2 linked regions of the Homo sapiens genome follow. The protein of the gene in region 1 interacts with the protein of each later gene in a pairwise test. Each region holds a gene or a part of one and is shown in the gene's direction. Other genes may lie near its edges.

Region 1 (8,608 bases):
TCTTAGTTTTTGGTCTTTTTTTGTTCTTCATTAAAAAAATGAGTGATATTTTACCTGTTCAGGGAATACTTTCTTTAGCCTTTATCTTGTACACATTAGGATATTTTAAATCAAATCTTTGAAGGGTTTCATCCAATTTTAATCTGCAGACTCTATATTGCATCGTTTCTGCATTATAATAAATATTATCTTACTATACATAAAATTGGTATAAGTAAATTTTAGTCAAAATCACCTACTGAACTGTTAGGAAAACTGGGATTGGAATCTAAAAGTTTAATTTCTACATTGCTGTTTAGAAAGTTGTAACACAAATATGTATTTATTACATTTATATAAGTTATGCTTAGTTACAAATTAAATGGAATTACTTCAAATTTTCAAAGGTTATATAGTTATTTTTATAATATAAAGTTGAAGGTATATATGTTATGTTTGGAGATATCTATAGAGAATTACATTATCTTTTAAGTGTATAGGATGTTTTAGATAATTATAGTACTGATGACAGTAGTAAAAAGTATAGGAATAGAAATATATCAGTGTCATTTCAGACTTAAGTAAAATGAGTTTATCCTCATGTGTTTTGCAAATAAATGCATCATTGTCCTTCCCTAATTATTCAGGGCTGAGAAATAGGTTTTGAATGAAAGTGAGAGAATGTAAGCATTTGCCAACCTGAAGCTTGACAGCCCTTTAGTACTAAGAATGTTTTAAAAAATACCCATCATCTTCAATTTCACCATTCATATTTATATGTCACAGAGCAAATCATGATGAACCATGAGGTTTATATAGAAGACCTAATATTTGTGATGTGGACCAGGCATGGTTTTATGTTAGCCATGATATTTTAACTGTACTAGCAGATTTTTCACTGGGGTTTTGTACTTTTAACATTAATCCTTATAATTTGATTTTTAAAAAATATCCAGAATAAACGAAGTCTACTTATGTCTACTCATTACCTCATTTATAGAGTCCATATTCAAAATGGGTAATAAGTCAATGAGAAAGTTGAAGGAAAAGGAAATAAAATATTTGACCTAATTTTTGTTCCTTTTTCTTAGGCTTGAAGAGAATTACATTGTATGTGAAGGAGTTTGCTTACCACGGTGCATTCTTTATGCACACTACTTAGATTTCTGTAGGAAAGAGAAATTAGAGCCAGCCTGTGCGGCCACCTTTGGAAAGGTAAATGACACGTATTGGCTATAGTGACTTATAACTAAAGTCATGTCAGGCAGATAGCATGAAAATGAATTCATCTGTGCAAGTTCTCTTAGAGAATATTGAGACATTTGTTTTGCAGGCATAAATTGTCTTAAGGACTCTGTTTGGAATTGCTATATGTTTATAACTTGATTTTGAATATTAGAACCCTAACTATTAGAAGATCTAATGTGAATTTAAAGCAAGCTTTGTTTAAGCAGTAGCATTTGCCTTCAAAGAGGGATGCATTAAAGTGTATAGTATGGCCTGTGGTAAGAAGCAAAATTAAGTGGAGGTGACAAGTCTCTTGCTAATGCAATTAGTGGTTAGTGGTTATCCATACTATTTACCTAGTCCAAATATATGAGTTTTTAATAGGTTTTAAAATGTATTAAAATTTCTCCTAATTCTCCATTTCACTCTATGTTTACATTCCAAATCCCAAGATTTTATGATGGGATGGGTTAGAATTCTCTCATTTAAAAATATTTCTTTCTACCCAACCTGTGTGGTTAGGATGGGAATCTATATAACTGACATTATTATGCTTATATATAGAGAGAGAGACATCACTTTGAGAATCAATATGAATGTCTTAAGAAAGCCTTGTTCTTTAAGATTCATGTCATGCTGTGTTTGAGAACCTAGGATATCCCAGAAAAACTTTAGGAAGCTTGGGTCTCAAATATTGTATCTTACACAAATTGAAATCCAGATTCTAACCTGTAGAGGGACTCATTGTCCAGAAAATAATGAATACTACAGTCCAGCTTCTCATTTAAAAAATAATGTTATTTATTTCAAAAACCTATCTATTTACAGAGAGAGTGTGATATTATACATTGTAATCAGGTAACCTGGGTTCTAGCCTAGACTGGACTAATTTATTGTGAGACCTTCTGAAAAGCACTTAATCTCTTTAAAAATCTGTTTACTCATTCTATTAAATGAGGAGTTTGGATAAGACAACTTCTAATATCCATATTAACATTACCATTTTGTGAGTCTACCTTATGGGAATAATTCTTAACTGTTTGGCAGTCATGAAGCACCTTGAAAACCTGGTAAAACTGTAGAGCCAGCCTCCAAGAAATTAATACATACATAGTTTGCCATGGAGCTCTTTAAAGTTCATGTATGGATCTTCAAAGATTGAGGTTAAAATTGTTTTATGTAGAAGACTTTTTAAAAAATGTTTAATCAGATCCTAATTTTAGCAACTTTAGAGAAAGGAACATACAAAACAAAAAATTTATAACATTATAATGGAGATACAGTAAGGCAGAGAAAGTTTTATATGTCCTTTGGGGTTGGGAATAGATTTTTAATTGTGGGTAAATCTCTGTATGGAATTATATGAAGAGACCCAAATCTTCTCACTCCATACATAAATAAAGTAATAATTGCTTTGGTAGTACCATCAAGCAAAAGCAGATATTGGTATGATCTGCCTTAGAAATCAAGACAAGGTCAGTAGAGCACTTCAATCAAAAAAGTACCTCCCTGCCTCTGCTGATGTATTGCTTATCAATATGTGTAAGTTATTACTTTTTCCAGACTAAGTATTCACTCACAGTTCATTCAGAGTTCAACATTTACTTTCCCCAAGTAATTGGCTATGAGTGGCTTGCATTAGGACCATATACTTTCTAACGCCTAAAGTAATCATCTTTCTTTTTAGACAATTCGCCAGAAGTTTCCCCTCCTAACAACAAGGCGGCTTGGAACAAGAGGCCATTCAAAGTAAGATACCAGTGAACATATTCAGGTTCTGCTCTTGTGCATGAAGATTGACACAGATGTAAAATAAGTATTGTCTTTGTCAGTACAAAGAGAACCAGGTATTCTCTTGATGAAGCAGACTTTTATCAACTGTGAGAACTGAAAAAAAAAAAAAGATTTTAGAATAATGTTTAAAAAGCAAATTTTACATTTGAAAATAATAATGTATTATTATTTCTGCTGAAATAATTTAAATGAGTCATTTTCATAATCTTAAAGCTGTTACTGAAGGCACCAGTGTTATGAGGAGGAATGCAACGCTCCCAAAGAGCAAGGCCCAAACCAGGGGGTAAAGAGCTTTGAGTAGGAAGGAAGTGCCTTAGCATGCTTCAGGTTCTTCCTCTAGTTTTCTTTCTGAGACAATAATTTCTTGATATCTCCTTCTCTTCTCTTTAAGACAAATGACATGCACAGATGACCTGTTTGGTCATCTCTTAAGGTAAATATAAACATAAACTAAGCTGTCACACATTCCCCCTCTTTATGTCTTTAAATTTTCCTCTCTGTTGTGGCAGTCTCTGGAGAACTCCCAGGTACAGTTTCTCATTCAACAGCTATTTTCTATGCGTACTGTGTTTTCAGTTTCTCCTTTCCTTCTGCCTATGAGCATGTCCAGATCTCCTTTATGCTGAGAAAGAAAAAAGTTCCAACCTTCATGATTGCTCTAGTATTTCCCCCTTTGAGCTGTTGCTTCCCTTACCACTGATCACATCCCTCTGACCTAGTCCATTTCCTACCTGGGCAAAAATCCAATGGCTGGTTTTTACTGTTACTCATCTTCCTTGGCTCCTGCTTAGCATTTGAACCAACTGATAATGCCCTCTTAAAATAAATACAGAAAACTACCTCTATAGCTTCTCTGTCATAGTACTATCTAGGCCCTCTTCCCTCTTCTACCACTCCTTTTCTGGCTTGTCCACTGCCTCCTTCTGCCCTGACATCACATCCAGCACTGATCAATGAAAGTATAATGTGGCCACATATTTAATTCAAAAATTTCTGGAAGCCACGTTTAAAAAGTAAAAAGGAACAAGCGAAATTAATTTTAATGTTTTATGTAATCCAATTTATCCAAAACATTATTATCTCACTATGGAATCAATATAAAAATTATTAATCGGATATTTTACATTCTTCTTTTCATACTACGTTTTTGAAATCTAGTGTGTATTTTACACTTACATCACATCTCAGTTTAGACTAGCCACATTTCCTGTGCTTACCCCCACATATGGCCAGTGGCTTTATTGCTTTATTGGATAGCTCAGCTTTAGACACTTGCAAAAACATAGGTCCTACTTTTTGAATTCTTTTGAATATGACTCTCCTCATTGCTACTTTCATAGCCTGGCCTTGACTCTGTCTTTCTTGTCCATTCATGCAATTTTTCCAAACTGACCTTTTAAAGTTGAGATTCAATCATATCTCTTCCATGTTCAAAACCTCCACTGGCTCATAATTTCTACTATTAACAACAAACTTTCCTCAACTTGACATTCAAGGTCCATCATGATTTAGTCCAAGTTCATTTTACTATGTCACCTATTTCTTACTTTCTAGCATGTAGTCTATGTGCTCACCAAATAATTATCCCAGTAACCTTTGATTCACTCCAACTGCCAGTCTTCTGTTTAAGTTTATGCTGTCTTCCCCTGGAGAATGCCTTTTCCCATATATGTATGTTGAAATTTTACCCATTTGAAAGAATGTCTCTTGAACTTCTTCCTTTAGATCTTTTTTTAGTCCATTGATTTATTGTAGGTCCCTTCTCTGCACCCTGTGGCAGTTTGCTGGTACCTATCTTAATGTGAAATTAACTTATCTCCTCCTCTAAACAGATAATACATATTTTGAGGACAGAAACTTTGTCTCATTCACTTTTATATTCTTTCTGTTGGTCGATATATAATAGATTATCAATTAATACTTATTTAATTGATTGCAATTAATGTTAACATTATTGTGGCCTGGAAAGAATAAATAAAGTGCCAGATTCAAAAAGGCAAAATGGGTCCCTTCCTTCTAACCAAGTCAACTTTATTTCAAAGTTTGATCAGTTTAACTGACTGATTTCTACTGAATTTGATTCCTACTGAATTGTATTGGTTGAGGAAAGATCAGATAGTGTTTAAAGTAAATAGATAGGGGGAAAAGAGGCCGAGCAATGAAGAGAAACCCTCTTGACAGGATCTATAAGAGGGTGGGCTGGCAGGCTGCAGGGAAAGTCAATTAATCTTTGAAGGAGCCTTTAGGATTAGGGATGAATCATTAACCCTGTCCATTGTGTCACAGTGGGGCTCTAGTACTTAGGTTGATGTAACAACATGGGGTGACTTCGGGCAATTTATTTGAATCCAAGAGCCATAGATGTGCCCAACAGCAAGGCATTAACAATTTGAATTTTTTTCTGCTGTGCTGATATGCCATTTGATATTTGTGACGTGACTTTTTTGATATGTTTATATCATAGAGAAAAATTAATTTTCCATATTTAAACTACATATGGTAAAAATATAGCAAAATGTAGTTTGTATATCTTGTAAATAGTAATTTTTTTGACATAATTATTCTTAGCTAGGTATGTTTCTGCCTTTATTTCCAAGAAATATCCTTAGCTTTTATCTTGGAAGATAGAATATCAAAAGGCAGTATAGCCTAATGGTTAGGGACATAGGCTTTAAAGTTGGACAACTTTAAACATGAATCTGATGTTTCCATGTATAGCTGTGTGACACCAGCTTTCCAGCTAGTGATTTATTGTAAGGTTATTCAGCTTTTCACCAGTAAAGTGGGTATACAATATCTTATAGGATTGTTGTGAGAGTTAAATGAGATAAAGTATAGGAATGAATATAGTAGTGAATATGCTTTCAACCGCACTATCCTTAATAATAAAAAATTAATGACTCAATATAAAATATCTGCACTACAATTAGAAGTTATTTACTGAGTATTACACACACACACAGATGCATGCACTCATCTCTAATCCTTGCAATAATGATAGAAGATAGGAATTACTGTATTACAAATGAGGAAATTGCATTTCAAAGGTTATTGGCTTGCCCAAGGCCACATAGATAATACATAATAACAATGCTGGCATTTGAATCAAAGTATATCTGACTCTAAAGTTTATGTTTTATCTGCTAGTAAAAGTAGGGAAGCCTACTACTTTTTTTCCAATATCAATCGTATCAACAAATAATTATTCAATTGAATGTTTGATTTTTGACATATAAGTTTTATTAAGTTTTTTTTTAACAGATCTAACAGTTCTTAAACTTTATTAACATATTAGATTCTTCTTCAGAGAACAAACAACACTTTACCATGCCACAATTGTAAGGCATTTAATTTAGAGGTATTTGTGTTTTATATTAACAGCAAATTTGTAGCACAATTTTATTTTCTGCCTTTTAATTTTAGTCCTAAACATGTCTCTGTTATATATTATCTTTGCAAACATTTCTAATGGCTATTATTTCATAAACTTACATTTTATAAAAATATTTTTATGTTTCTATGGAAATATGAACAACTGAATGAAAGACAGAAATATAAAGTAAGTATACCTTAGAAAATCAGGGAATCATAATTTCTCCCAATTTTACTAGTAATTTTGCAAAACATTTTATTGTTATTGTAGTGTTTAATACAGTACTTTTAGCATAGTATTACTAAATATTTGTTGAATTATTTAAAAAATATAAATAAATGTGATATTTATTTTAACTTCCTTGGATTGCATACTAATACATACAAACATTGTGAAACTGTTCTGATGATGATTACTTAAAAAATGAGTTCTCAGTTTGGCCAAATTATTATAGGATAGCTAGAGTATGTCCAGTCATCTCACTGGGGACTATCAGAATTTATTTTAGATTATGATTGACTCAAAAGGTTCTCCTGTACTCTGGGCATGAGATAGCACCCTCTTTTTAAAAATTGTTCTTAGATGTCTTTGAGGTTCATGAAGCAATGTCACTCTCTAAATTTTACTGGTCCCTATATAAAACCCAAAGTTTGGAAAACACTAATCTATGTGACAAAGAGATGATTAGTAGGGCCTAAAAATCATGAATGAATGTGGTGTCTATTTTCAAGTTCTATTTTCCTAAGTTTTGAAATAACTGGCTGTTAATTACAGTAATGTCTTCACAGCTCTCACATTTGTGCATGTGCTACTTCTTTCCCTCACTGAAAAGTGAAAGATGAAAAAGTTTGACTGTATAAAATGAGCCCAAAATTTATTCAATTAAATGGAAGAGATAAAATATTTAAAACAGATATATTAAAACAAAAAAAAATAGGCTGGATGTGGTGGCTCACACCTGTAATCCCAGCACTTTGGGAGGCTGAGACAGGAGGATCAGGAGGTCAAGAGATTGAGACCATCCTGGCTAACATGGTGAAACCCTGTCTTTACTAAAAATACAAAAATTAGCTGGGCGTGGTGGTGCGCACCTGTAGTCCCAGCTACTCAGGAAGCTGAGGCAGGAGAATCACTTGAACCTGAGAGGCGGAGGTTGCAGTGAGCTGAGATCGCACCACTGCACTCCAGCCTGGCGACCGAGCGAGACTCCATCTCAAAACATAACAAAACAAAACAAAAATAAAAAAATAATAAAACAAAAAAATCTAAACAGACAGGATCACTGTGTAGGGCCAGATATCATCCACTGTCAAAATTAGGAACAATTAAAAATGGAGTAATTTGTTTTCAGTGGCAAGTTCAACATTCCACATCAAAGGCCACTGCTGCTGATGGTTATGGAAAAAAAAAATCTCTAAAGATGAACATGAGGGGTCAGGAAGCGTCACTCTAGGGCACCTAACAAGTGTGCTTTGGGGACAAAGCCAGTCAATTTGCAGGTCCATTAGCAGCTCAGCTCTCTATCCAGTTCCTTCACGCTTACCATCCCCTGCCAGCCAAGAAAACCAGCAACCCCAGCGGCAGACACTGTACATTCCCAATACCAAGATAAAAATTGACTTTACTTTCATGTTTCTTCTTTTCTTCCCTTTAGTTTTACTACCAATTCCAAAAGTATACACCTGGTTTTATTATCTGTGATATTTTTTAATTGAGGTTTTGAATAAATAAAAAATGAAACAAAGTTCTATAAGGATAATAATGAAGAATCATTCTTGCATATTTTATGGTTATGAATACATTGAGAATAATCAGTCCATTCCTACTGACATGGATGTACAAAGCGTGATGCTAAAGAGTTTTTGAGATGCAAAGAATTGTAAAACAGGGTACCTGCTGGCAAAGAACTTTCGCTACTCATCTTAATTATTTAATAAGCATTTTACTGAGGGTCCCGTTGCTAACTAGGCCCTCGGGTACAATGATAAGCAAAAACCTTGTATCCCACCCTTGCTCAGAATGGCTTGGCTAAGTAAAGGAGAACATAATTGAGCCCACAAATAGATTTTACACACATGGTAGACTGTTTGATTTTAAGTTACATTTTAATTTTTTGTAGACTTTGATCAGCCAAATCTTGGTTTTCAGACATGATGGACAAAAGCTATTATCTTATTTATTAGTAGTGATTTAGTGGGTTAATAAAACTGATACGGCAGCTGCTCTTATCATAGC
Region 2 (7,655 bases), on another chromosome or scaffold:
TTAAATAGTGAAATGTCGAGAGGCATCTTTGTTTGTGTTAAGGACAAAAAAAAAAAGATGTTTGTCAAAAACGCTTTGAGATAAATGAACATAATTTAAAACTCTTGGCTGCGTGTGGTGGATCATGCCTGTAAACCCAGCACTTTGGGGAGCAGAGGCAGGCAGATCACTTGAGGTCAAGACCATCTTAGCCAACATGGCGAAACCCCGTCTCTACTAAAAATACAAAAATTAGCCAGGCGTGGTGGTGCATGCCTGTAATTCAAGCTACTCAGGAGGCTGAGGCACGAGAATCACTTGAACTTGGGAGGCAGAGATTGCAGTGAGCTGAGACAGCACCACTGCACTCCATCCTGGGTGACGGAGTGAGACTTTGTCTCAAACAAAACAAAACAAAAAAATAAAGTCTTAAAACATATATTTTCTACCATTTTACTCTCTGCCCTGCATTATGCATTGTGATGTGCCTGCTCAGGGTTAATAATGTTTAGCCATGGTTGGTGCAGAAAGACCCAGCCAGCATCTTGTTAGTGTTTTCTAGCTAAATAATGCCTTTAAATGCTGGCTTTTGTATTCTGACCTCTGACTTGAGGGCAGTAGTAGCATCTTAGAATATCAAGAATTTCACTTAGAACATCAAGATTCCTACAGTAATAAGAAAATCCATACCCCTAACAAGTCTATGCCTTCCTTACCCATACATTTTGACTGTTTCATTGTCATGCATAGGTATGTTTATAAAAATAGAGATAGAGGTGTCAGAGTTCTGACTCACCCAACTTCTTTATCTAAACCGTTATGTTTCATGTAAAATGAGCATGCTATTGTTAATTTGCATTTATTTTTTAAAAAACAGTTCTTTAAAAAAATTTTTCTTTCAAATGTTCCCAGTTCTTACTGTATTTAATTAGAAAAGCCTTTATTGTAAACAGAAAATAAAATTGAGTATGAGTGTTTTGAGTTGAGCCTTTCCCTCTTTTCTATTTTTTTTCTTTTACTGTTTGAGCTAATTTGAACAAAATTATGAACCTTACAACCAGGACTTTTCTCTTTTCTTTGCAGTGTGCGAATCTCCAGGGAGTCAAGATGCTCTGTTCTAATGCAGAAGGAGCATCCCTGAAACTGTGTAATTTTGAGGATCCTTCTGGTCTTAAAGCCAATTTAGAAGGTGAGATCCTTTCTGTAAATACCTATTCTACGAAGGAAGCAGACTGTAAAGGAAAAAAGCCCTGGAAAATAATTGTTAAGGGTGAAACAGGATAGCTGTAGGGGATAGGTTTCTTCTGTCATCATATTTGGAGAACTTCCAAAGTGGTAAGAAACCTCCATTTGGTTTCAGTCAAATGCTAATCAAAATTGAGGACTCAGAAAAAATAAAACCTCAAATATTTAATAAGGTTTTAGTTGGAAAATTAAATATCAACATCTTAAACTTTCAAATGGAATAAAATATTCTTACACTGACCAAAAGGAAAAATTTCATTTGCATAAAGCCAGGGAGTTTTTAAAAATCATTTTTAGATTTAATGTATTGTTTCTTAATTTGTTACTATCTGTGACTGATCACTTTGTTTACTTGTATATTTAGGAGACTACTTCACTCCCTTATCATAAACCTGTAGAGGCATATTATGAAAGTGCTAACTATCATAAGACAGAACTAAATTTCTTCCCTCAAAAGTATTGTGAAAGCATTCTTTCATCAGTAAACTGTTTATATATATAAGTTCGTTGAGAGACAAGATTTTAGATTAATTTCCAAAAGTTAAAAGAGGCCTCCATTAAGTCATCTTGCAGTTCTGTTGAAGGTAGATAACTATATTTTTAAGTTAAACTACTCCCAGAATGTGTTCACTGTAGGTGCTAATCTGAAAGGTGTGGATATGGAAGGAAGTCAGATGACAGGAATTAACCTGAGAGTGGCTACCTTAAAAAATGCAAAGTTGAAGAACTGTAACCTCAGAGGAGCAACTCTGGCAGGAACTGATTTAGAGGTGAGTTCACCAACACTTTAAGAATTTTTATTACTCTAGACTTACTAAGCATCTCATGCAAAATTTATTGAAATCAAAACAAAGTAGTTGGCTGGTAAAACTGGATTGGAAGACTCATCTGACATTCAGTCTAAGTTGATTTCATTTCTCTCCTTTTCCTTGAGTTTTTCTCAAGTAAATAAGTTTGATAGATGTGTTATCTAATGTATTGCATTTTCCATAAAATTTAATTCCGAATAGAATTAAATGGGCTAGATTACTTCTTAAACTACTTGAGAAATTTAAATGATATCCAGGTTTGAAATCAGGTTCAGGAAAAGTCTATTTGAAATTGGAACCATATGTTTTTTGGTTTTCAGCTTGAGATTATAATTTTGCCTGGTCATCTTTTTCAAAGAATTATATTTGTATGTCTTCTTAATTTGCCAGTTTAGCTAGCAGACTTGATAGCTGTTGATAGGTCTATATCAGCACTATCCAATAGCACTTTGTGCAGGAGGGACATGTTCTATATCTGTGCTGTTCAGTATAGTAGCTACCACCCATATATAGCTATTGAGCGCTTGAGATTTGGCTAGTGCAAATGAGAAATTGATTTTTAAATTTTATTTAATTTTAATTCATTTAAATTTAAGTAGCCACATGTGGCTGGTAGCTATGAAATCTGGTATAAATTGGATAGCAGAGAACGGTATGTCAAAATTTAGCTTGCTGTTAATGTTTTTTCATAATATTTTTGCCTAGATATCTTGATAGCTCTCGGTAGCAGAGTAGCAGGCCCCTTTCAACTTCAAGGCAAAAAGAATTGGCCTAAGTATAATCCTATCACGAGCACAATTATTTATTGTTTGTTACATTACTTTCACCTAAGATTATATTTTTTTCCTTGGTTTTAGTACTGTGTACTCAGTGTGGCCTAGCAGCAAAAGCCTCCCTCTCTCTGATTGCAAAGACTGATCAGGTTGACTATTGAGGGGAGAGCTGCTGACATTTGTTCTCCTAACAGGTTACGTTTAGTCACCCTTCTCTCTAACCATTGTCCCCTATCATATCCAGGGACTTAAGTGGAATCTCTATCTTATTGCTCCGTGATCTCAAGACAAATTAAGAAATAGCTTCAAATTGCGGTGGTTACACTGTTCTGTACATCTGTCAAACTCACTGTATTATATACGTACCTTTGGGGCTTTAAAAAGAAGGGCAGTTCCTTGCTATAAAAATACTAGGGCTAGGGAATGGAAAAATCTATTACACAATTTGATTAAGTAAAATCTTTTCAGATTAAAAAAAAAGTCTTCCCCCCATCTCATTCCTTTTGTTGTTGTTGTTCTTGGATCATAGTAAAATTGTTTTGATAATATTTATTACTTTGGGGCCAGGCGCAGTGGCTCATGCCTGTAACCCCAGCATTTTGGGAGGCCAAGGTGGGCGAATCACTTGAGGTTAGGAGTTTGAGACCAGCCTGGCCAACATGGTGAAACCCCGTCTCTACTAAAAATAGAAAAAATTAGCCAGGCGTGGTGGTGAGTGCCTGTAACCCCAGCTACTCTGGAAGCTGAGGCAGGAGAATAGCTCGAATCCTGGAGGTGGAGGTTGCAGTGAGCCGAGATTGCACTCCAGCCTGGGCAACAAGAGCAAAACTCCGTTTCAAAAAAAAAATTGTGTGTGTGTGTGTGTGTGTGTGTGTGTGTGTGTATTTATTATGTTGGAATCCATTCTGTATTTTAAATCAGTGGTCCCCAACCTTTTTGGCACCAGGGACTGGTTTTGTGGAAGAAAATATTTTCACAGATCAGAGTCGGGGGCTGGTTTTGGGATGATTCAAGCGCGTTACATTTATTGTGCACTTTATTTCTACTAGTATTACATTGTAATACATAATGAAATAATTATATAACTCACCATAATGTAGAATCAGTGGGAGCCCTGAGTTTGTTTTCTTGCAACTAGACAGTCCCATCTGGGGGTGTTGGAGACAGTGACAGATCATCAGGCATTAGATTCTCATGAGGAGTACCCCACCTAGATCCCTCACATGTGCAGTTCACAATAGGGTTCACGCTCCTGTGCGAATCTAATGCCCCTGCTGATCTGACAGGAGGTGGAGCTCAGGCTGTAACTTGAGCCATACAGGGACTGGCTGTAAATACAGATGAAGCTTCATCTACTGGTGACCTCCTGCTGTGTGGCCTGATTCTTAACAGGCCATGGACCAGTATCAGTCTGTGGCCCAGGGGTTGGGGACCCCTGTTTTCAATGTCTCCTTATAAAATATGCAAGAACAAGGGACATGCTTCCTCTTTAACCTTTGTTTATACATATTTATGGTGATCAGCCTGAACTAGAGGTAACAAATAAAGATAGAAGAACATCTTAATTTAGGGTGGTGTATCATCAGTTTTCCGGAAATTAACTGAGTTTTATTGTATAAGAACATTTTCCTAATCTGCCCCAGAAATCATTTTGAGCAGAAATAGATAAGGCCTGAAATTTCCACATGAATTACATGAATATTGTTTTCATCTTGCAGAATTGTGATCTGTCTGGGTGTGATCTTCAAGAAGCCAACCTGAGAGGGTCCAACGTGAAGGGAGCTATATTTGAAGAGATGCTGACACCACTACACATGTCACAAAGTGTCAGATGAGAATTTTAGGGGCTGGAGGAAGATGTAAAAGATGAAAATGTTTTCCTTATCACTTTTCTTTCTCCACCCACTCAGTTGTCTAGAAGAAATAACACTGTAAGGAAATTTAAAAAAAAAACATTTAGAGGATTATGCTTGTTTTGAGTGGTGCATAAGGGAAAAAACTGACTTTTTTTCCATATTCTGATTTTTAACAGAAAAGCACTCATTTAATAGATGTAGGGAAACTAGATATTGCTGCCTTTTGAATGGGGTAGGGGGGTTTACCTGGTTTTATGACCAGGCATAGTATCTATTATATTTGCTTTTAAATAGGCATGATGTGGAAATACCATCTTGGTTTGAGATGCATTTGAGGATTTTAATTTATGGAAAGCACAACATATGCAATTATATTTATTGAATTCCTAGATGCAGTATGGATATTTAAATTGTTAAAACTTTATGAAAACTTGGAAAAGGTTGTTCAGGTTTATAAATAGCTTTAGTGATGCCTCCCCTCTTTAAATACCTGTCACACCGTATGAATATGGTGAGATCAGACTCCCTAAGACTCTTTTCAGGTTCATTTTTATAATGTTTACTTTTTAGGACAGAACAGTAGCTAAATTAAAGTAATATCCAGTTCTTACTGATTGAGACAGAGTGGAAAGAAAGACATCATTGTACATCACTGTCATTCCAAAGGTACAGTGTAACTCTGGATGGAGGAATAACTTACCTATCACTACAACACTTACAAATGAGAATTTCTCAGAATTTCATTCTAGGCAAGTTCCACTCAACACCAGATCAAGCAATTCTATCTATTTACACTATTAGCCTAGTTTTCTCATACAGTCATCACAAGCATAGGAAGATACTTCAAAACCAAAAAAACCAAGGTGCATCATTAATATTCATTTAATTCAAATACCAAATAGTTTACATAGGGCCAGCTTAGAAATAGATACTAAATCCAGAGCTACTGCAATCAAAGCTTATATGAGTGAATATGGTAGAGTTGCCTGCTAAAAGGCAATGTAATATAATTGCAGCTAGAACCCTACAGTGGGGAATGAGGAATTTTAAACACACATTTGATTACAGCCACCAAAAAAATAGACGTAAAAATAAAGGCATTTGGCTGGTCCAAGATGTAATTATCAATCAGTCAGCACCTGTGATTCTTTTACTTATTTTTTTGTGGTTTTTTTTTTTTAAACAAATTTTAGCCCAATTTTCTTGAGTCATTCTCTCTCTGCAGCAGCAGAGGAAGGGCCTGTACCTCCCTACCAATGACTTGGTGTCCTTATTTTCTACCCCAAGAGCAGGGATATTAGCTGTGTCCAAATGGGTTCTGAATTCTACAGACTCATCAACATGAGGCAAGGAATCATTGAAAACCACCTGTGTCTCCTTTGGGAGAATGACATATCTTTAGTATTTACGTAGCTTATTCTTCTATATCTACATATGCAAAGCTTTCCTTAACAGTAAAGGGTACATATGCATAGTGGGAGGAGATCAGACCTTTACAAGTGAAGGAAAGCAACTTCAGAAATGAATTATTTTCTTTGCTTTATTATTTTTACCAAGACAGAGAAGTATTGTATTGAGAGATAATCTATTTTCATAATCAATATGTGCCTAAATTATATTTAAATCATTTCACTCTGTACTATATTTTCAGGAATTACAGAATGTGGTATTCATTCACTTAAAGGTACCTCTGTAGAAATAACCTAAAACTGCAGAAGGATCTGAAAGATCTAAACATGGTGTGCTTAGAAACTGCAGATTTTAGATCTAATGTATACTGCATTAATAAATGATATAAAGTGTTTGTTGAAAAGGAGTTTCTTCTCTTCCTTTTGAAAATCATCACTTTCTGTATTTTGCTTACATTTCTTCAATATGTGTTGACAACCAGCCCTGTGGTTCTGGGTAGCAAAGGAAATACAGTATAACTTAATTTGTTATGGATTAGTCTTTTTGAAAGTACCATTAAAGTAAATTTATTTCTTTAAACATGATTATTTTTATCATTCTTTTAAAAATACACCATGCTAACAACACAAACCTTATGAATTCTGAACAAAAGAAAAGACTGCCTCCCCAATAATTCGTTTAATTTGTTTGTGTTAAATTCATCACTCTTTAGGTGATGAATATTACCAGTTAGCTTTATTAGACTGGATAAATAGCATGCCCCAAAACATTTTTTGCCTGATAACTAGGATAGAGAATTTTAAGGAGGGAAGAAACCGTTAAAATAGTAAAACTTCCATTAACCCTAGAGATGAAACATGTCTGTACACATAGGTAAAAATACAGCTGTTGGGATGACAGGAAAAAGGTTTTAAATCAAAATTAAACTAGCTGGATTATCTGCATTAATAAAATTTGGTACTCAACTAAGCAATACTATCTATTGTAGTCTAGTTCTTTCAACTATAGTCTCAAGGAAATTCTGGTAGAAAATGTTGTAAATTAATTATTCTTATGAAGGGTTCAATCATAAATCAAGACTTGGAATATTTTCTCCATTTCATTTTATGACTCTTATGTGTACTGTAAATCTGCCCTATGTCAACTTTAAATCATCTTTAATATATGGAAAAAACTTAGAATTGCACTAAGTAAGTCCCCAAGGAAGAATTACCTTTAAAATTAAAAGGTTCATTACTACAAAGAAAAGTGGTTACATTATTTCAGTATAAAGCACCTTATCCAAGGATTAATTCTCTGAAACCCTTTTACAACCTGATTAGACATGTCAGCAGGAGTTAACCTTAAGTGCTTCCTGCTGAGATTTTACATTAGGGCAAGAAAAGATTTTTTTCATCTGTCATTTCAGTGATATTATGAGATCATCGCTGTAATAATTTTGAGGTGTTTTGATGTTGATGAAGCAGTTTTTTCTCTAAAGCCATTCTTTCAAATTTAGAAAAAAATATGACAAATATAAAATCCAATTATTTAAACCCAATTTATTATATTTAACTTTTTGATAAACTGACCTAACCATGGAA

Evidence for each region. Proteins that work in one complex are often made in the same cells at the same time.
Region 2: the proteins of RFX6 (region 1) and KCTD9 interact in binary tests that used the Homo sapiens proteins (3 or more experiments, as listed by UniProt).

The regions. Positions count from the first base shown.
Region 1 is NC_000006.12:116,879,474-116,888,081, forward strand, and holds part of RFX6 (DNA-binding protein RFX6), read left to right. Parts: intron 1-1,070; coding exon 1,071-1,194; intron 1,195-2,893; coding exon 2,894-2,955; intron 2,956-8,608. UniProt on the Homo sapiens protein: Transcription factor required to direct islet cell differentiation during endocrine pancreas development. Specifically required for the differentiation of 4 of the 5 islet cell types and for the production of insulin.
Region 2 is NC_000008.11:25,426,843-25,434,497, reverse strand, and holds the end of KCTD9 (BTB/POZ domain-containing protein KCTD9), read left to right. Parts: intron 1-1,062; coding exon 1,063-1,168; intron 1,169-1,844; coding exon of another isoform or gene 1,845-1,860; coding exon 1,861-1,994; intron 1,995-4,524; coding exon 4,525-4,641; 3' UTR 4,642-6,651; downstream 6,652-7,655. UniProt on the Homo sapiens protein: Substrate-specific adapter of a BCR (BTB-CUL3-RBX1) E3 ubiquitin-protein ligase complex, which mediates the ubiquitination of target proteins, leading to their degradation by the proteasome.